Homo sapiens: one gene and its partners. The protein of the gene in region 5 binds, or shares a complex with, the protein of the main gene of each other region. Each region holds a gene or a part of one and is shown on either strand. Other genes may lie near its edges.

Evidence for each region.
Region 1: PRPF6 (region 5) and PRPF4 share a complex: the UniProt entries of both Homo sapiens proteins name them as parts of the U4/U6-U5 tri-snRNP complex.
Region 2: PRPF6 (region 5) and SNRNP40 share a complex: the UniProt entries of both Homo sapiens proteins name them as parts of the U4/U6-U5 tri-snRNP complex.
Region 3: PRPF6 (region 5) and LSM2 share a complex: the UniProt entries of both Homo sapiens proteins name them as parts of the U4/U6-U5 tri-snRNP complex.
Region 4: PRPF6 (region 5) and LSM7 share a complex: the UniProt entries of both Homo sapiens proteins name them as parts of the U4/U6-U5 tri-snRNP complex.

Annotation. Positions count from the first base shown.
Region 1 is NC_000009.12:113,285,524-113,289,535, forward strand, and holds part of PRPF4 (U4/U6 small nuclear ribonucleoprotein Prp4), read left to right. Parts: intron 1-669; exon of another isoform or gene 670-685; coding exon of another isoform or gene 686-708; coding exon 709-767; intron 768-1,181; coding exon 1,182-1,305; intron 1,306-2,651; coding exon 2,652-2,741; intron 2,742-4,012. UniProt on the Homo sapiens protein: Plays a role in pre-mRNA splicing as component of the U4/U6-U5 tri-snRNP complex that is involved in spliceosome assembly, and as component of the precatalytic spliceosome (spliceosome B complex).
Region 2 is NC_000001.11:31,282,840-31,286,851, reverse strand, and holds part of SNRNP40 (U5 small nuclear ribonucleoprotein 40 kDa protein), read left to right. Parts: intron 1-4,012. UniProt on the Homo sapiens protein: Required for pre-mRNA splicing as component of the activated spliceosome. Component of the U5 small nuclear ribonucleoprotein (snRNP) complex and the U4/U6-U5 tri-snRNP complex, building blocks of the spliceosome.
Region 3 is NC_000006.12:31,800,337-31,804,348, reverse strand, and holds part of LSM2 (U6 snRNA-associated Sm-like protein LSm2), read left to right. Parts: intron 1-4,012. UniProt on the Homo sapiens protein: Plays a role in pre-mRNA splicing as component of the U4/U6-U5 tri-snRNP complex that is involved in spliceosome assembly, and as component of the precatalytic spliceosome (spliceosome B complex).
Region 4 is NC_000019.10:2,322,863-2,325,657, reverse strand, and holds part of LSM7 (U6 snRNA-associated Sm-like protein LSm7), read left to right. Parts: intron 1-1,461; coding exon 1,462-1,533; intron 1,534-2,795. UniProt on the Homo sapiens protein: Plays a role in pre-mRNA splicing as component of the U4/U6-U5 tri-snRNP complex that is involved in spliceosome assembly, and as component of the precatalytic spliceosome (spliceosome B complex).
Region 5 is NC_000020.11:64,026,042-64,030,053, forward strand, and holds part of PRPF6 (pre-mRNA-processing factor 6), read left to right. Parts: coding exon 1-17; intron 18-940; coding exon 941-1,117; intron 1,118-1,561; coding exon 1,562-1,695; intron 1,696-2,436; coding exon 2,437-2,528; intron 2,529-3,335; coding exon 3,336-3,450; exon of another isoform or gene 3,451-3,644; intron 3,645-3,750; exon of another isoform or gene 3,751-4,012. UniProt on the Homo sapiens protein: Involved in pre-mRNA splicing as component of the U4/U6-U5 tri-snRNP complex, one of the building blocks of the spliceosome.

The DNA of each region.
Region 1 (4,012 bases), on a different chromosome or scaffold from region 5:
ACCCGCCACCGCACCCAGCTAATTTTTTGTATTTTTAGTAGAGACAGGGTTTCACCGTGTTAGCCAGGATGGGCTCGATCTCCTGACCTTGTGATCTGCCCGCCTTGGCCTCCCAAAGTGCTGGGATTACAGGTGTGAGCCACAGCGCCTGGCCCAAAAAATTTTTAAAAATTTATTTAATTTTTTAAAACGTTAGCCAGGTGTGGTGGCATGCGCCTGTTAGTCCCAGCTACTCAGGAGGCTGGGTGATAGAATTGCTTGAGCCTGGGAGGTTGAGGCTGCAGTGAACTGTGATCACACTACTGCACTCCAGCCTAGGTGACAGAGTGACACTGTTTCTCAAAAAAAAAATTTAAATACTTTGTAATCAGCAAAATACTATTCATATTTAAGGACAGTATCACTATTAATATTCGTATTATTGGATAGTTTAATTTGCCCCACCTTCCCTCACAAGTGGATCCAAAAGTTAAGGAGAATGGCTACTGGTGTAGTGTTAATTATAGTCCAGTAAAAGCCTCTGGTTGCGTGTGGGCTGGAGGTAGCTTTTTCTTCTATAACCCTTCTAACTATAAGGCTTTTATTTTTCTGTCAGCCATTGTAAAGTTTATTGGGGGTGAGAAGAGATTGTCCTTTAGTAATATTACCAAGGTACCTTTTCCTTCCCAGACCAACCCTGGCTGAGATGCTTTCCTTTGTATTTGATAGGAGTGGGCTTTGCAAGCTCTGGTCTGTTCCTGATTGCAACCTCCTTCACACTCTTCGAGGTAAGTTAGAGTCTTATCCAAATCTCGGTCTTTTTCCCAGTGTGAACTCAGTTAAGCCTTAAACTCTGCTTGACACTCAGACCCCATACACACAGCATTAATCCTTGATTTGATTTGACTTGGTTTTCTCTGGCTGCAAGACTGGACTATCACAACTTCCTACACATCCACTTTTCTCTCATGTGCAGTCACACTCTGGCATTTTATAATCTCTAAACCAAAAACCAAAATGGGTTTTTTTGTGTTTTGCTTTTTTAAAAATGTAATTTAAATATTAGCTTAAATTAAAATAGTTCATGTTTTAATAGTTGAATAGTCACTTGAATACTCTGTATGTCCACATGTTCCCTAGTATATAACATGGGTTATAAAGAGGCAGGAACCTTTTAACTTGCATCTCTTACACTCCTTTAGGGCATAACACAAATGTAGGAGCAATTGTATTCCATCCCAAATCCACTGTCTCCTTGGACCCAAAAGATGTCAACCTGGCCTCTTGTGCGGCTGATGGCTCTGTGAAGCTTTGGAGTCTCGACAGGTGAATATCACTGTTCTGTGGCCCATACTGCCATCACTAAAGTAGATGTTTGATTGGTTGGTCCCCAGGACCTCAGTAAAAATCTGGCATTTAGGCCATGCGCAGTGGCTCACACCTTAAGGCTGAGGCAGGAGAATTGCTTAAACCCGGGAAATGGAGGTTGTGGTGAGCCGAGATTGCACACTGCACTCCAGCTTGGGTGACAGAGCAAGACTCCGTCTTGAAAGAACAAAAAAAAAAATCTGGCATTTAACCCCCAAGATGGTTTAAGAGTCAAGGTAACCTAGTGTGAAAATGAAGTAAGTGGAAGATTTCATTCTTAGGCCTTTTCTTACTAAAGGAGTTATGTCCGTTTTTTCTTACCTGTTAACTTTGGATCTTGATTTTTGTCTATAGCCTAGTGACCACTATTTCCTAGCTCCATTTATTCCAGAAAGATCCAGCCTACCTCCTACATGATAAATTAACAATGAACTAAATATAATATTCTTGGCAGTTCGTTGGTTCTTAGCAAACAGCCACAGGGGAGAGGAAAGTGAGGTTCTGTCTAGCAGTATTACCACGGAGATGTCTCCTCGCAATAGCATCATCCTTTACCTAGAATGTATTTTCCAACTACAACAGTTTTTAAAAATGTGTTTATGTGATTGTTTTCCAAAAAAAAAAAAACTTCGGAAGCACCCTGTTGGCCAAAAGGCATCTGAATTTAATTGTTTAGTTTTCTTTCTTTGGGAAAACACATGAAGGTTTTTACTTGAGAATTTTTATGAGAGCTAATTAATGTCTTCACTCCTCACCAGACAGGGTCTCACTTAGGAGCGCAGTGAGTTTTAATTGGCTTTGGTAATACTTAGCAATGTTTATTCCCCTTGGGCTTTGGCTTGTTCTGTGTATGCACATTGACAAAGTTCCCTTTTTAATTGCGTTCCTTAGAGTTCATGTTTATTTCCTTTTGCTGATGTTCAGATCTTTTGGTGGTTGCTGGGTAGCAGAATTTAATGGCCACCAAAAGGAGACTAAGCCTCATCTCTATTTAGGAGTTCCTTTTTCATTTGGATCTTGGAACAGGCCTAAATTTGAAAAAGGTTTATCTGTAATCCACTTGTACCAAAACTATGTGATTTCTGTGTCCTTATATCTCTTCCAAAGCATGTTTTCTTTCTAGAATCCAGGTACTCCTTTGGTGCAGAATGACTATTTTGCTTATTGGGCCAAAGTAGTTTACAAGTGTAGTTACAATTTAGCCTCTCGTGTTGTACAGAATGGGTATGTCTGCACAGAAGGTAAGCAGTTTTGTGACTATTTATATGTCTATAAAATTGTTTATATGTTTGGTTCCTTTCCAGTGATGAACCAGTGGCAGATATTGAAGGCCATACAGTGCGTGTGGCGCGGGTAATGTGGCATCCTTCAGGACGTTTCCTGGGCACCACCTGGTGAGCCATCCTGTTATTGTTTTATCCATATAGGCCTGTAGCATCTTCTTAACCCTTTATGGCTATCTGCCAGGTAAATTTTTAGAGCAGAGATCTTCAGGTAGGATTTTCTTGGGCTGCAGGGAATTGGAATCAGAGGAGAATGTTTAATATAGTGAGAGCTAAGTATATTTGCCTTTTTTTTTTTTTTGAGGTGGAGTCTCACTCTGTCACCCAGGCTGGAGTGCAGTGGCGCGATCTCGGCTCACTGCAACCGCCGTCTCCCGGGTTCAAGCAATTCTCCTGCCTCGACCTCCCGAGTAGCTGGGACTACAGGCGCGTGCCACCATGCCCAGCTAATTTTTTTATTTTTAGTAGAGACAGGGTTTCACCATGTTGGCCAGGCTGGTCTTAAACTCCTGACCTCAGGTGATCTTCCCGCCTCAGCCTCCCAAAGTGCTGGGATTATAGATAACAGGTAACGCGCCCAGCCATATTTGCCTTTAAATTACAATTAATCTGAAATTTCAGAGTTACAAATTACCAGAAAACAAGGATTTTCACTCTTGTCCAATGCTACAGGTATATAAGTCTCCCTTCCTGGTTCTGTAAGTTCAGGGAGGCTAGAATCTGTTAGAGAACTTTTCCATTAAGTTATAATTTACATACAATGGAATGGATTTATTTTAAGTGTACAATGCTGTCAGTCTTTACAAACGCGTACCATTCCTGTGATCGACACCTCTGTCAATATAGAGAATAGTCCATCACCCCAGAAAGGTCCCTCATGCCCTTTTCCAGCCAACTCCCCCTTCTAAAGCAACTGCTGATCTGACTTCTATCACCACAAATTAATTATGTCTATTCATACTGTGAATTCATTTGTGGCAGGCTTCTTTCAGCATAACATTGTTAAGAGTCATTCATGTTGTTGCATGTATCAGTAATTCCTTTTTATTGCTGGGGGTTATTCATTTTTATGACTGTGCCATAGTTTATCCATTCTCCTGTTGATGGACACTTGGGCTGTTTCCAGGTCTGGGCCAGTCAGAATGAAGCTGCTATAAATATTCTTGTACCAGGCTTTTTGTGGACATGAGTACAATTGCTGGGTCATAGGGTAGAGGTATGAGATGTATATTTAACTTTTTCTAAACTCCCCACCAGTTTTCCAAAGCGGTTACACCATTTTACATTCCCGGAGTTCTGGTTACTTCACATCCCTGTTAACATTTGGTGTTGTCAGTCTTACCATTTTGCCCAATCTAGCAGGTGTGTAGTGATCTCCCGTG
Region 2 (4,012 bases), on a different chromosome or scaffold from region 5:
TGGGCCAAGGTGGCCCAGAGTAGAGTGTCAGAGCACAAGTGTGGTAAGGAGAGCATCCACACTGGGCAGGGCAGTACATTGTAGGGAGTAGTCAGAGAGTGAGGAAGGCATCCATACAACACAGGGTAGGTAACCAGTGTGGGGAATTTGAGGGTGAGGGAGGGGCAGCAGCCCAACAGTGCCCTAATGGGGTGAAAGGGTCGCCTGTACGTGAAGCAGTACGGGGAGAATGTGGATGTCAAAGCCTGAACTGAGGGCATCCACACAGGGTAGAAATGATTTGGTGTAGGGAGTCTGAGACTGAGCAAGATGATGACTGCATGCTTGGAGAAGTGCAGACTGGAAAAGAGCCGTAGCAGAGTGATGAGGGTGTTCACACAGAGGAATGACCCAAGTTGGTTAAGGAAGAGTCACACATGGCTTCAACCAAGAATGGGAATCACAATTCAAGTAGGGAAGGGTGGAAGAGAATATGGGAAACTGGTTGCATGCAGGAAGCATAATCAAATAAGTGAATATATTGAATTTAATGGGAGGCTGATTTCTCTGTCCAAGAACAGAGTTACCAGTACAAAAGAGAAGACTAAAATGAATCTTGTGTGAGGTATAAGTGTGAACTCACAATATTCAATATAGAAACATATAGAAAAAAATAGACATAAATGTGTGAGTGTGTGTGTGTGTGTACCTAAATGTACATATATTGCCTGACTGTCCACTGAAAAGGTTTAGGAGCAACAAGACCCCAATAGCAATAGCACCCCTTACTGCACAGGTACTGTTTTCCATTAAAAGGAACCAGGGCTCCTATTTCAGCCCAGGGGCAGTGAAAGTACAAGATAAGCCTTGTACTTGTCAAGGCTTATTTTGTCAAAAGAACATCCTAACTAAATTATCAAATCGACCTAATTAGTAATGGGACAAGACAAAATCATGAACCATTTGCTAGGATACAACAAAGATGCAGCATCATTTCTGTGATATTCCTACCAAAGATGTATAACTTAAATCTAATCAAGAGGAAACATAAGACAAACCTAAATTGGGGATGATGACCTGTAACTTTCAGAAGTGTTGAGTTCATAAAACTCAAGGAAAGTTTGAGAGAGTCTTGCAGACTGGAGTCTAAATTTAACATATGATTCCAGACTGAATCCTTGTGCAATAAGACATTTGGGATAACTGGTAAAACTTGAGTGGGATTTGAGGATAAAATGGTGATAGTGTATCTGTATTTCTTGATTTTGATGGTTATGTTGAGATGATGTAGGAGAACATCTTTGTAGGACAGACACTATTTAGGAGTGATAAGGGGCCAGGTGCAGTGGCTTATGCCTGTAATCCTAGCACTTTGGGAGGCCTAGGCAGGTGGATCACTTGAGGTCGGGAGTTTGAAACCAGCCTGGCCAACTTGAAGAAACCCTGTCTCTACTAAAAATACAAAAAAGCCGGGCATGGTGGCAGATGCCTGTAATACCAGCTACTCAGGAGGCTGAGGAAGAATTGCTTGAACCCGGGAGGTGGAGGTTGCAGTGAGCGGAGATCACGCCACTGCACTCCAGAATGAGCAACAGACAGAGTGAGACTCCCATCTCAAAAAAAAAAAAAAGGTGATAAGGCATTGGGTAAGCAACTTACTCTCAAATGATTTAGACCAAAAAAAGTGTTCTTTTTACTTCCAAGTTTTCTATAAATTTATGATTGCTTCAAAGTAAAATAATTATTAAAAGTGGTAGTTATCTGGAACTAAAATTCTAAATTATTTTAAACAAACTTTGACTACCATGACTTTTAGGAGAAAGACAAAGATAGATTTGACCTGAGTGAAGTATCTATTGAGACAAAGATTATAGTACAGTTTATAAAATATATAGGATCTAAATTATTAAGGCCTTGAATTCCAGGTTAAGAAGTTTGGACTTGATTCTGTAACCACAGGAGTTGGGGGAGTAGGAGATGTTGGGCATGTAGGAGAGGAGTGAAGCGTTCTTTTTAGACCATTTATCTGAGTAATGAACTAATTTTTAGTTCGTATTTACATGAACAAAGAAGAAACTACTTTTCATCCTAAACCATGAGAATTGGGAGGAAGAGGCATCTTGGCACAGATCCTACTCAGACTCTCCTTGTTGACTACAGGATTGAAGTTAAGCCTATGACCTTCCCTAAAGTTCCATGGCTGATTCCTTTCTTTTTGATGCCAGCCCTTTAAAACTTGGAACAGTCATCCCAAAGTCTCTTTCTTCTGAATGAAACGACCCATACTTTTAAATCATTTACTTGTGGTTCATCTTCTCAAGTGTGTCATTCATTTATTGAAACATCTCTGAGCCCTCTCTGTGTTATCCACGCTTTAAAAAAGTAGAGCTATAAGGGTTTGTTTGTTTAAGAGATGGGGTCTTGGCCGGGTGCAGTGGCTCACGCCTGTAATCCCACCACTTTGGGAGGCCAAGGTGGGTGGATCACCTGAGGTCAGGAGTTCGAGACCAGCCTGGCCAACATGGTGAAACCCCCGTCTCTTCTAAAAATAGAAAAATTAGCTGGGCGTGGTGGCGCATGCCTGTAATCCCAGCTATCCAGGAGGCTAAAGCAGGAGAATTGCTGGAACACGGAAGCAGAGGTTGCAGTGAGCCGAGATGCCGCCACTCTCACCCAGGCTGGAGTACAGATCCGCAATCACGGCTCACTGCAGCCTCAACCTCTCTGGCCCAAGCGATCCTCCCATCTCAGCCTCCCAAGTAGCTGGGACTATAGGCATATACCACCACACCCAACTTTTTGTTTTTATTTTGTAGAGATGAGGAATCACCATGTTGCTCAGGCTGGTCGCTAACTCTGGGCTAAAGCCATCCTCCTGGCCTCGGCCTCCGAAAGTGCTGGGGTTACAGGCATGAGCCACCATACCTGGCCCTCTAAGAATTTTATAGTTTTAGCTCTTACATTTAGGTCCTTGATCCATGTTGAATTAATTTTTGTGTATCATGTTAGGCAGGGGCTTACCTTCATTCTTTGGCATGTGGTTAGCCAGTTGTCTTAGCACAATTTGTTGAGAAGACTACTTTTTCCTTCTATATGGACCATAGTTACTTGCTTCTTTGCATGCCTTATATTTTGTTGAAAACTAGGCATTTAAATATTATAGCGTGGTGACTCTGGAAATTAGGTCCCCAGAGCTGCTTATTGTAGTTGTTTGTTTAGTGACTTTCTGTGGGTTGGGGTAAGGTGAGAGTGGTTGGTTGGTTGGTTTTTGAGACGAAGTCTCGCTCTGTAGCCCAGGCTGGAGTGCAGTAGTGCGATCTTGGCTCACTGCAACCTCCACTCCCCGGGTTCAAGTGATTCTTGCACCTCAGCTTCCTGAGTAGCTGGGGTTACAGGGGCACACCACCATGACCAGCTAATTTTTGTATTTTTAGTAGAAACAAGGTTTTACCATGTTAGCCACGCTGGTCTTGAACTCCTGACCTCAAGTGATCCATCCACCTCGGCCTCCCAAAATGCTGGGATTACAGGTGTAAGCCACCATGCCCGGCCTGTTTAGTGAATTTTTGAACTAATTTTGTAAAGTTTGTATTCTTTGTCCTGTGTGACCACTGAATTCTTTTTTTCGTTAGCTTAGTGGTCAGCTAGTGAATGACACAAGTTTCCTAAATTACCTACAACAACAAGAACAAAAATTCTCCCAGTCTTTGCAGATTGTCTTTTTGTATGTTGGAGCCTGCCTTCAACTCCTTGCCATGCAGTTTACATCTCTCCTTAGCTTTCACTTCCTGCTTGTGCAGAGCCTGAAGGTGAACCAGAGAGCTTACGGCCTTCTCAGATCTTTTCTAAGTATGTGCCCAGCCCTGGACATGCAAGTGGTCTAGATTGCCAGGAATGGGCCAGGCGTGGTGGCTCATGCCTGTAATCTTAGCACTTTGGGAGGGTGAGGCAGACAGATCACTTGAGGCCAGGAGTTTGAGACCAGCCTGGTCAACGTGGCGAAACCCTGTCTCTACTAAAAATACAAAAATTA
Region 3 (4,012 bases), on a different chromosome or scaffold from region 5:
TCAGTCTGTCACCTAGGCTGGACTGCAATGGCGTAATCTCGGCTCACTGCAGCCTCTGCCTCCTGGGTTCAAGCAATTCTCTGCCTCAGCCTCCCTAGTAGCTGTGATTACAAGTGCCCACCACCATGCCCGGCTAAATTTTGTATTTTTAGTAGAGATGGAGTTTCACCATCTAGGCCAGGCTGGTCTTGAACTCTCGACCTTGTGATCCACCTGCCTCAGCCTCTCAAAGTGTTGGGATTACAGGCGTGAGCCACTGCGCCTAGTCCTACTTTCTTTCTTAAAATAATATTTATTTATTTAAAAATTAGAGACAGTGCCTCACTTTGTTGCTCAGGCTGGTTTCAAATTCTTTGAGTTCAAGCAGTCCTCTTGCTTCAGCTTCCCAAAGTGCTGGGGTTACGCGCATGAGCCAGCACACCTGGCCCTGTACTTATCTGTACAGTCCTTTAAATAATATGTACATTTAGGCCAGATGCGGTGGCTCATACCTGTAATCCCAGCACTTTGGGAAGTCGAGGCGGGTGGATGCCTGAGGTCACGAGTTTGAGACTAGCTTGGCCAACATGGTGAAACTCCATCTCTACTAAAAATACAAAAATTAGCCAGATGTTGTGTTGTGCGCCTGTAATCCTAGCTGCTCAGGAGCCTGAGGCTGGAGAATCACATGAACCCGGGAGGCGGACGTTGTAGTGAGCTGAGATCAGGCCACTGCACTCCAGCCTGGGCGACAGACTGAGACTCCATCTCAAAAAAAAAAAAAAAGTACATTTAAAATATTGATACCTGTTACCTCATTATCCTTTAGAAAGATGGGATCAATTGTATTCTCTTCCCAAAAGCGTCTTCCACATTTATTTTTTTGAGATGGGGGTCTCACTCTGTTGTCCAGGCTGTAGTGCAGTGGCACCACCATAGCTCACTCAGCCTCCTGAATAGCTGGGGCTATATGCCACCATGCCCAGCTAATTTTTTAATTATTTGGAGAGGCAGAGTCTCACTGTGTTGCCGAGGCTAGTCTGAAACTCTTGGGCTCAAGCAGTCCTGCCACCTTGGCCTCCCAAAGTGCTGGAATTACAGGTGTGTGCCACTGTGTCTGGCTGTCTTCCACATTTCTATGTGAGATAATTTTTTCATGGGTTACACGTTGACAGGGCAGGGAATGGTGAGGAGAGGGACTTAAGGGCCTTTGCGTTTTAGAACACAGGTTTCCATTTGTAGCACTGGCAATGCAAGTGATATTGATGTGTATAGATTGGGGCCACAGAGCAAGACAAGTACGGTAATCACTATCAGTCTTAGGCAATTTGGTGTGATGACTTGTTTTTGATTCTCCTCTTTTCTCCTTCCTGGGCCTTTTACATGGGAAGCCTAACTGTTGTGTTATAACCCTAGGCCCTAAAGTACCTTTATTTTTTTTATTTTATTTTGTTTTTGAGACAGAGTCTTGCCCTGTCGCCCAGGCTGGAGTGCAATGGCGTGATCTCGGCTCACCGCAACCTCTGCCTCCCGGGTTCAAGTGATTCTCCTGCCTCAGCCTCCCTGGTAGCTGGGATTACAGGCATGCGCCACAACGCCTGGCTCATTTTTTGTATCTTCAGTAGAGACAGGGTTTCACCATGTTGGCCAGGCTGGTCTCCCAACTCCTGACCTCGTGATCTGCCCACCCCAGCCTCCCAAAGTACTGGGATTACAAGTGTGAGCCACTGCACCCGGCCGTAGTAACATTTCTTTTCTTTTTCTTTTTTCTTTTTTTTATTGAGACGAGTCTCGCTCTGGTCGAGTCTACGCCAGGCTGGAGTGCAGTGGTGCTGTAACCTCCGACTCCCTGGTTCAAGTGATTATCCTGCCTCAGCCTCCCGAGTAGCTGGGATTATATGCATGCACCACCACGCCCAGCTAATTTTTGTATTTTTAGTAGAGAAGGGGTTTCACCACGTTGGCCAGGATGGTCTCAATCTCCTGACCTTGTGATCTGCCCACCTCGGCCTCCCAAAGTACTGTGATTACAGGTGTGAGCCACTGCGCCCAGCCTTCTTTTTTTTCTATTTATTTATTTATTTTTGTTTGAGATGGGGTCTCACTCTGTCACCCAGGTTGGAGTGCAGTGGCATGATCTCGGGTCACTGCAACCTCTGCTGCCTGGGTTCAAGTGATTCTCCTGCCTCAGTCTCCCAAGTAGCTGGGATTACAAGTGCCTGCCACCATACCTGGCTAATTTTTGTATTTTTAGTAGACATCGGGTTTCACCATCTTCGTCAGGCTGGTCTTGAACTCCTGACCTCGTGATCCACCTGCCTCGGCCTCCCAAAGTGCTGGGATTACAGACGTGAGCCACTGCACCCGGCCTTTTTATATTATTTTTAAAATTTTTCATAGAGACAGAGTCTCGGCCGTGTTGCCCAGGCTGGTCTTGAACTCCTGGACTCAAGTGATCCTCCCACCTCAGCCTCTCAAAGTGCAGTGACTACAGGTGTGAGCCAATATGTGTGTGGCTTTAAAGTGACTTTTCTGTTGGGATGAGAAAGAAGATCTTTCTCCTTTTTTTTCCTTGAGACAGGGTCTCACTCTGTTGCCCTGGCTGGAGTGCGGTGGCGCGATCTTGGCTCACTGCAACCTCTGCCTCCTGGGTTCAAGTGATTCTTCCACCTCAGCCTCCCGAATAGCTGGGATTACCGGTGCATGCCACCACTCCCAGCTAATTTTTTGTATTTTTAGTAGGGATGGGGTTTCACCATGTTGGCCAGGCTGGCCTCAAACTCCTGACCTCAAGTGATCCTCCTGCCTCAGCCTCCCAAAGTGCTGGGATCACAGGTGTGAGCCACCACGCCTGGCCAAAAGTTCTTTCTCTTATGTTTGTTGTCAGACCACTTTTGTGCTATGTATCTCCCCCTCCTTAAGGGACTTAATAAAATGACACCACTTTGTACAATTCCCAAATGTTATTTCACTGCTGGAGATGGTGGGGTGCTGTCAAATGTTTTTCAGCAGCTAGCAATATGGTGAGAACATTACTGAGGCAGTGGGTTTCAGATACTGGGTGTTTGTTTTTGTTTTTGTTATTAGGCAGAGACTCACCCTCTGTCTCAAAAAAAATAATGATTGCCTAGTACTAGTTCATTTAAATTAATTTCCTAGAGCATATTTAAGTGGGTCTTTTTTTTTTTTTTTTTTTTTTGAGACAGATCCTTACTCTGTCACCGAGGCTGGAATGCAGTGGCATGATCTTGGCTCACTGCAACCTCTACCTCCTGTGTTCAAATGATTCTCGTGCCTCAGCCTCCTGTATACCTGGGACTACAGGCATGCACCACACACAGCTAATTTTTGTATTTTTATATTTTATTTTTAAATTTTTTTTTTCCTCCTGGGTTCAAGTGATTCTCGTGCCTCACCTCCTGAGTAGCTGGGATTACAGGTGCACACCACAATGCCCAGCTAATTTTTGTATTTTTTTTTTTTTGAGACGGAGTCTTGCTTTGTCACCCAGGCTGGAGTGTAGTGGTGTGATCTCCGCTCACTGCAAGCTCTGCCTCCCAGTTCACGCCATTTTTCTACCTCAGCCTCCCAAGTAGCTGGGACTACAGGTGCCCGCCACCATGCCCGGCTAATTTTTTGTATTTTTAGTAGAGACGGGGTTTCACCGTGTTAGCCAGGATGGTCTCGATCTCCTGACCTCGTGATCCACCCGCCTCGGCCTCCCAAAGTGCTGAGATTATAGGCGTGAGCCACCACGCCCGGCCAATTTTTGTATTTTTAGTAGAGATGGGGATTCGCCGTGTTGGCCAGGCTGGTCTTGAAGTCCTGGCCTCAAGTGATCCGCCCACCTTGGCCTCCTAAAGTTCTGGGATTATAGGCATGAGCCACCGCACATGGCCTAGACGCTGGGTTTTAAAGACTTTCAGAATTTTACAAAAATTGGGGCAGAGAACTGCCAACTTTATTTTTGGCAAGATAAGGACGTTTTTAAAACTGCTATTTATTACGATTATTTTTATTTATTTATTTTTCT
Region 4 (2,795 bases), on a different chromosome or scaffold from region 5:
ACCACCGCACAGGGCGGCCCTCGGTGTGTGTGGAGCAGCCGTGGACGGGCTCTCGGCCCTGCCTTGGGAGGAGACAGGCAGGCAGAATAATGCCCGGGGTGCCTGCTTCCCGAGATTGGTGGTGCCTGCTTCCCGAGATTGGTGGTGCCTGCTTCCTGAGATTGGCGTGGGCGTGCAGAGGGCAGCACCGTAAGGGCTGTGGGTTGGTGTCTGGAGGAAGCACCTGAAAGATGACAGGGGTAAGAAGGAGAGCAGGGAGGGGGTGGCTGCGGGACGCCCCTCAGTGAGCGCAGAGGTGGAGCTGCTGCTGGGCCTCGGCTGCAGGAGCCTGCAGGGCAGTGGAGGGGAGTCCCAGGCAGAGAGGGTGGGCTGGCCTCTGCTGGGGACACACAGCTCCCCCTTCACCCTTCTCAGTGTCACCAGACACTGCGGAGCAGGATCAGATGGCAGAGATCACCACCGGGTCAGAGAGCCCTAACCTAAGTTGGCAAGTTGTGGCCCAAGGCGGCGAAGCTTGAGGGGTGGGGCAGGCAGCGTGGAGAGAGAAGCCACAGAGACCGTCTCAGCCCCCGAAGCCTTTGCACCTGGGTCTCAGAGCATCTCTGTTGCCTGCTCCCCGCAAGCCCTAAGCAGCAGGGCTGGGATTTGTTCTTTTGTATTCCGTGAACTCACTGAGGGACTCAGCACAGGTCAGGCAGCGCAGTCATCACCGCTGTCAGAGCGGAGCACTCTGTCTCCCCTACAGGAAGCCCTGTCCCCATCAGCCATCACTGCCTGTCCCATCCCTGGCCCTGGCACCCACGCATCCCTTCCCTGTCTTTGTGGATTGGCCTGTCCTGGACATTTCATAGAAATGGGATCTCACGGTGCGCAGCCTTCTGTGTCTGGCGTCTCTCACTGAGCGTGACGTCCTCAGGTGCGTCCTCAGGCGCATCCGCGCTGTGGCCTGCGCCAGCCTCGCTCCTCTTCCTGGCTGGTGGTCCCACCGCGTACACGTGCCGCCGCCTGTTTTGCTGCTGCTTTTGAGCTGAGAATTGTTTTTATGACTTTTAAATAGCTAGAAAGGGATCAAAACAAGACTGTCTCACGATGTGGAAATTACATGAAATTCACAGTTCAGTGCCTGTGAGTAGAGCTGACCGGCCGCAGTTCAGCCACACATGGACTCATTACCGAAGCTGCCTCCACCCAGGCAGCCCGAGCCAGCAGCTGTGACCGGCACCCTGTGGCCCACACGGCCAGAAGTGTTTGCCATCTGGCCCCCCGCAGACGTGGTCTGCTGCCTGTGGTGGAGATCACTCTGGAGGCGGCTGTCATCGGCCACTCCCGGGAGCCCTCTCCTACCCTCAGTCCTCCATCCCTGGAGCAGTTAGCCCCATACCTGGGCCATGCTGGGGCGGGCCCTGCGCCCAGGACGGATCTCATGCCTTCTCTTTTCTCTCCCCCGGTGATTTCTCCAAGCCAGTGGAATCCTGAAGGGCTTCGACCCACTCCTCAACCTTGTGCTGGACGGCACCATTGAGTACATGCGAGGTGAGTGGGGTGGCGGCCGAGGCAGGCAGCGGGACGAGGGGGATAGTGGGGTGAGGGGGGCAGCGGGACGAGGGGGGCAGTGGGACGAGGGGGGCAGCCGTGGGGCTCCCTGCTGGCTCTTCTTCTCTCAAACCCACAAAACCTCTGAGTTACCAACGTGAAGCCTCGTGGCGGCCGATGGACGGGCTTGAGCGCTCACTGGTCCTAGACGTCCTCACAAAGCAGGAAACCCCATTGTTGTGGGGCCTGGAGAGACGGGAGCTGCCAGCTCACCCACTGGTCTCTACACACTGACGGGGCGCCCGGCACAGTTAGAGGACAACCTTTTTAAATGTTTTATTATTTTAATTTTTGTTAAATTGGTGACGTGAGAGGCCAGGCACAATGGCTCACACCTATAATCCCAGCGCTTTGGGAGGCCAAGGCAGGAGGATCTCTTGAGGTCAGGAGTTTGAGACCAGCCTGACCAACATGGTGAAACCCCGTCTCCGCTAAAAATGCAAAAAAATTGCTGGGTGTGGTGGCGCATGCCTGTAATCCCAGCTGCTCGGGAGGCTGACGCAGGAGAATCGCTTGAACCTGGGAGGCGGAGGTTGCAGTGAGCCGAGATGGTGCAACTGCACTCCAGCCTGAGTAACAGAGTGAGACTCCGTCTCAAAAAAAAGAGATAAGCTGAGGTCTCACTGTGTTGCCCGGGCTGGTCTCGAACTCCTGGGCTCAAGCCATCCTCCTGCTTCAGCCTCCCACAGTGCTGGGGTTCCAGGCGTGAGCTGTGGCGCCCAGCGGAGAGCAGCCTTGCTGTGGGGTAGTGAGCGTGCCGTGGGGCTCCTCTCGGGCGCCTTTCCTCTTCTGCCCTTGTTAATTCCCGCTATGAACGCAGGGTCCCTGTCTCCTCCCCAGAGGACCCTCCCTCATTTCCCTGCCCCCGCTCGCTCCCCTCCCCAGTGAGGCCGCCAAGTCCTCAGACTCTCCCCCAGAAGCTCCTGCGGCAAGTCCCCAGCTGGCAAGTCCCCATCCCGGCCCGGGCACTGGGGGAATGTCAGGACTTAGGAGAGAGAGGGTCTTGCCCCTTGGATCCATTGATACTGAGACAAGATTTATTCTTGTAGCTGGCCATGGTGGCTCATGCCTGTAATCCCAGCACTTTGGGAGGCCAAGACAGGAGGATCACTCGAGCCCAGGAATTTGAGACCAGCCTGGGCAACATAGTGAGACCCTGTCTCTACAAAAAAAAAAAAAATGTAATTAGCCAGGCATGGCGG
Region 5 (4,012 bases):
GTGCCCCCACCGCCCGGGTACGCAGTGGCAGGCAGGGCTGGGCCGTCTGGGGTGCATGGTGTGCACATGCGGGCCCCACGCCTGGCTTGGGTGGTGATGGGAGTGAGATGACGGCAGGCAAACGAGACCACAGCACACTCATCTTTGTGATGTGACTAAAACATTCATGTGGCCGGGCGTGGTGGCCGGGCGCGGTGGCTCACGCCTGTAATCTCAGCACTTTGGGAGGCCAAGGCGGACAGATCACCTGAGGGTGGGAGTTTGAGACCAGCCTGACCAACATGGAGAAACCCCGTCTCTACTAAAAATACAAAATTAGCCGGGCGTGGTGGTGCGTGCCTGTAATCCCAGCTGCTCGGGAGGCTGAGGCAGGAGAATCGCTTGAACCCCGGGGGTGGAGGTTGCGGTGAGCTGAGATCGCGCCACTGCACTCCAGCCTGGGCAGCAAGAGGGAAACTGTCTCAGCAACAACAACAACAACAAACATGTTCATACGGCCGGGTGTGGTGGCTCACGCCTGTAATCCCAGCACTTTGGGAGGCCAAGGCAGGTAGATTGTGAGATCAGGAGTTCGACACCAGCCTGACCAACTCTGCTAAAAATACAAAATTAGCTGGGTGTGGTGGCTTGCACCTGTAGTTCCAGCTACTTGGGAGGCTGAGGCAGGAGAATGGTGTGAACCCAGCAGGTGGAGCTTGCAGTGAGCCGAGATCGTGCCACTGCACTCCAGCCTGGGTGACAGAGCGAGACTCTATCTCAAAAAAAAACAAAACAAAACAAAAACATATATTTATCCCCACCTTTTGTGTACACAAACAGGCTATGAAAAGCTTACAAAAGTACACACAGTACTGCAGGTAACAGTGTTGAGGATGAGTGTACCATGAAGCACGTACCCTGGAGCTGATGCCCTGCGTGACAGTGCATGTCTGCCCCACAGGTGTTCATGAAGTCTGTGAAGCTGGAGTGGGTGCAAGACAACATCAGGGCAGCCCAAGATCTGTGCGAGGAGGCCCTGCGGCACTATGAGGACTTCCCCAAGCTGTGGATGATGAAGGGGCAGATCGAGGAGCAGAAGGAGATGATGGAGAAGGCGCGGGAAGCCTATAACCAGGGGGTACGTCTCTGCCTGCACCCTGGGGCTGCAGCTGACCCGGCATTCACAAAACTGAGCCCCCTGGTGCAGGGTCATTGCCCTTCGCCTCTGAGGAGATGTGGAGGGCTGGGGGTTACAGCTGATGGAGCTGCAGACTCAGGACCCAAACCCTGGTCCCCTCGCTGAGTTCTGTGCTTTTCCTTATATGAAGCTGCACACACTGCTCAGAAGTGCAGAGTGTGGCACACCTGCAGTAAAGGCTGGTACGTACAGACCTGTGTGCACAGGTCCACAGCACCACCGCACACCTGTACACCCACAAATGCAGAGTGTGAGGGGTGTTTTTCCATGGACATGGCAGCCCTGAGGGACTCGGTCACCCACTGCAGATGAGAAGCTGGGCATGGCTGTGTCCCAGTTCTTCATAGACACCACCTGAGCTGCTCTCTTACTTGTTGGTTGCAGTTGAAGAAGTGTCCCCACTCCACACCCCTGTGGCTTTTGCTCTCTCGGCTGGAGGAGAAGATTGGGCAGCTTACTCGAGCACGGGCCATTTTGGAAAAGTCTCGTCTGAAGAACCCAAAGAACCCTGGGCTGTGGTGAGTCCTGGAGGGGGCAGCCTGGCCTCTGGGCACAGCTTCCCCATCAGGTGGGCCGCCGTCACCCAGCTGCTTGTGTGGAGTCACTCGTGCAGTGCTTCCAGGCTCAGGGGCTTGGGGGGCGGTAGGTGCTGGCCATGAAAAATCACGGTCCCTGCCTTAGGAGAGTTCGGCCTAGGTACTGTGACAGGCCTGTAGATGGTTTGATGCAGTTTAATTTGTGTTCTGATGGAGGGCGCCTGGGAGAGGGAGGGGTTAATGATGGCTGGGACGAGGGAAGGATGGACCCCGGAGAGCCAGCTCCACAGAGGAGGTGGCGTGGAGAGCCCTGGAGGTGGACAGGAGCCTGCTAGGTGCAGGCTCTGTTCATGGAGGTGCTGCGTCCAGCTCAGGGTGACGGGGCTGGAGCACTGTGCAGGCACTGCCGCAGACAGGCAGCTTCTGGGTGCCTTGTGCGGCCCTGGCTCTCCCAGTCTGGTCTTGTTTGTTCTGGATGCCTTCACCTGCATCTGGACAGCGTCAGGATCTGAGGTCTTGCCTTGGGGCGGTTGCCAGTGGGGCTGGCAGGGATGTGGGCCCCAGCGCCTTGTTTCTGTGGTGGATGAGCTCTGCTGTGGAGGGAATGGAGTTTTTGCTGCTGTGACTGGGTGGAGAGCCCTTTCAGACAAGGCTTCCCAGAAGCTACCAGAATATGTGCTGTTGGTAGACGGCTGTGGGACCTCCGGGGGCCTGTCTCCTCAGGTTGGAGTCCGTGCGGCTGGAGTACCGTGCGGGGCTGAAGAACATCGCAAATACACTCATGGCCAAGGCGCTGCAGGAGTGCCCCAACTCCGGTAAGGGGGTGCCCCGACTCCGGTAAGGGGGTGCCCTGACTCCGGTAAGGGGGTGCCTTGACTCCGGTAAGGGGGTGCTTCCTGGCTTCCCAGACTCCGCAGGGCTGGCACTTCCTGAGGGAGTGGGGGCTCAGGCTTCAGACGGACTTTATTAAAATGTGTAGTTTGTGTGAATCATTTCAGTCAAAAGTTTCAGCTATACTCGGCCGTTAAGACAACTTAATGAAATTCTTGGCCTCAAAATGGGAGAATTTGATTTCATTTCTGAAGTGTTATCATTTCTTTTTCTTTTAAAATTTAAAAGAAATTGGCCAGGTGTGGTGGCTCATGCCTGTAATCTCAGCACTTTGAGAGACTGAGGCGGGAGGATTGCTTGAGTCCAGGAGTCCATTGCTTGAGACCAGCCTGGCCAACATGGTGAAACCCCGTCTCTACTAAAATACAAAAATGAGCTGGGCATGGTGGCGGGCGCCTGTAATCCCAGCTACTCGGGAGGCTGAGGCAGGAGAATTGCTTGAGCCCGGGAGTGGGAGGTTGCAGTGAGCTGAGATTGCGCCATTGCACTCCACCCTGAATGACAGAGTGAGACTCTGCAGGGTGTCCAGTCTGTGCCCTCAGGGCTGCCATGGTTTTGGGTGGGCCAGAGTGCTCATCCTTTGTGGTTCTCCTTGCACAAGTTCTGCGAGCCGTGTGTGGGAGGCCCCTGTCGTGGTCTGAGGACGTCCCGGGTTAGAATCTGTAGGCTGGGCACCTTTCCGGAACCAGAGGCTGGAGTGCAAATCTTTGTTCTTTGTTTCTGAATTATAGGTATCCTGTGGTCTGAGGCCATCTTCCTCGAGGCAAGGCCCCAGAGGAGGACCAAGAGCGTGGATGCCCTGAAGAAGTGTGAGCATGACCCCCATGTGCTCCTGGCCGTGGCCAAGTGAGTGGGGCCCCCACAGGATTGCTGAACCTCGGGGTCCTAATGGGCTCTTTTTCCAGAGTCTGTCTGCCTCTTCCTGGTCATTGTAAAGATGCCCGGCAGCAGGGTGGGCTTCCCCGATCCTCGGCTGCCGTCGCTCCTGCTGTGGTCTGGGGCAGGCGCCTCTCCTGGCAGACACACCTGAGGGTGCCGTGGTCAGAGACTCACTGGGGACGCATGTGATTCACACTGGTGCGCTGGCCGCCGGGTCACAGACTCACTGGGGACGCGTGTGATTCACACTGGTGCGCTGGCCGCCAGGTCAGAGACTCACCGGGGACGCATGTGATTCACACTGGTGCTCTGGTCGCCGGGTCAGAGACTCACTGGGGACGCATGTGATTCACACTGGTGCGCTGGCCGCCGGGTCAGAGACTCACTGGGGACACATGTGATTCACACTGGTGTGCTGGCCGCCGGGTCAGAGACTCACTGGGGACGCGTGTGATTCACACTGGTGCGCTGGCCGCTGGGTCAGAGACTCACTGGGGACGTGACTCTGGAACCTTGCAGGCAGCAGCGG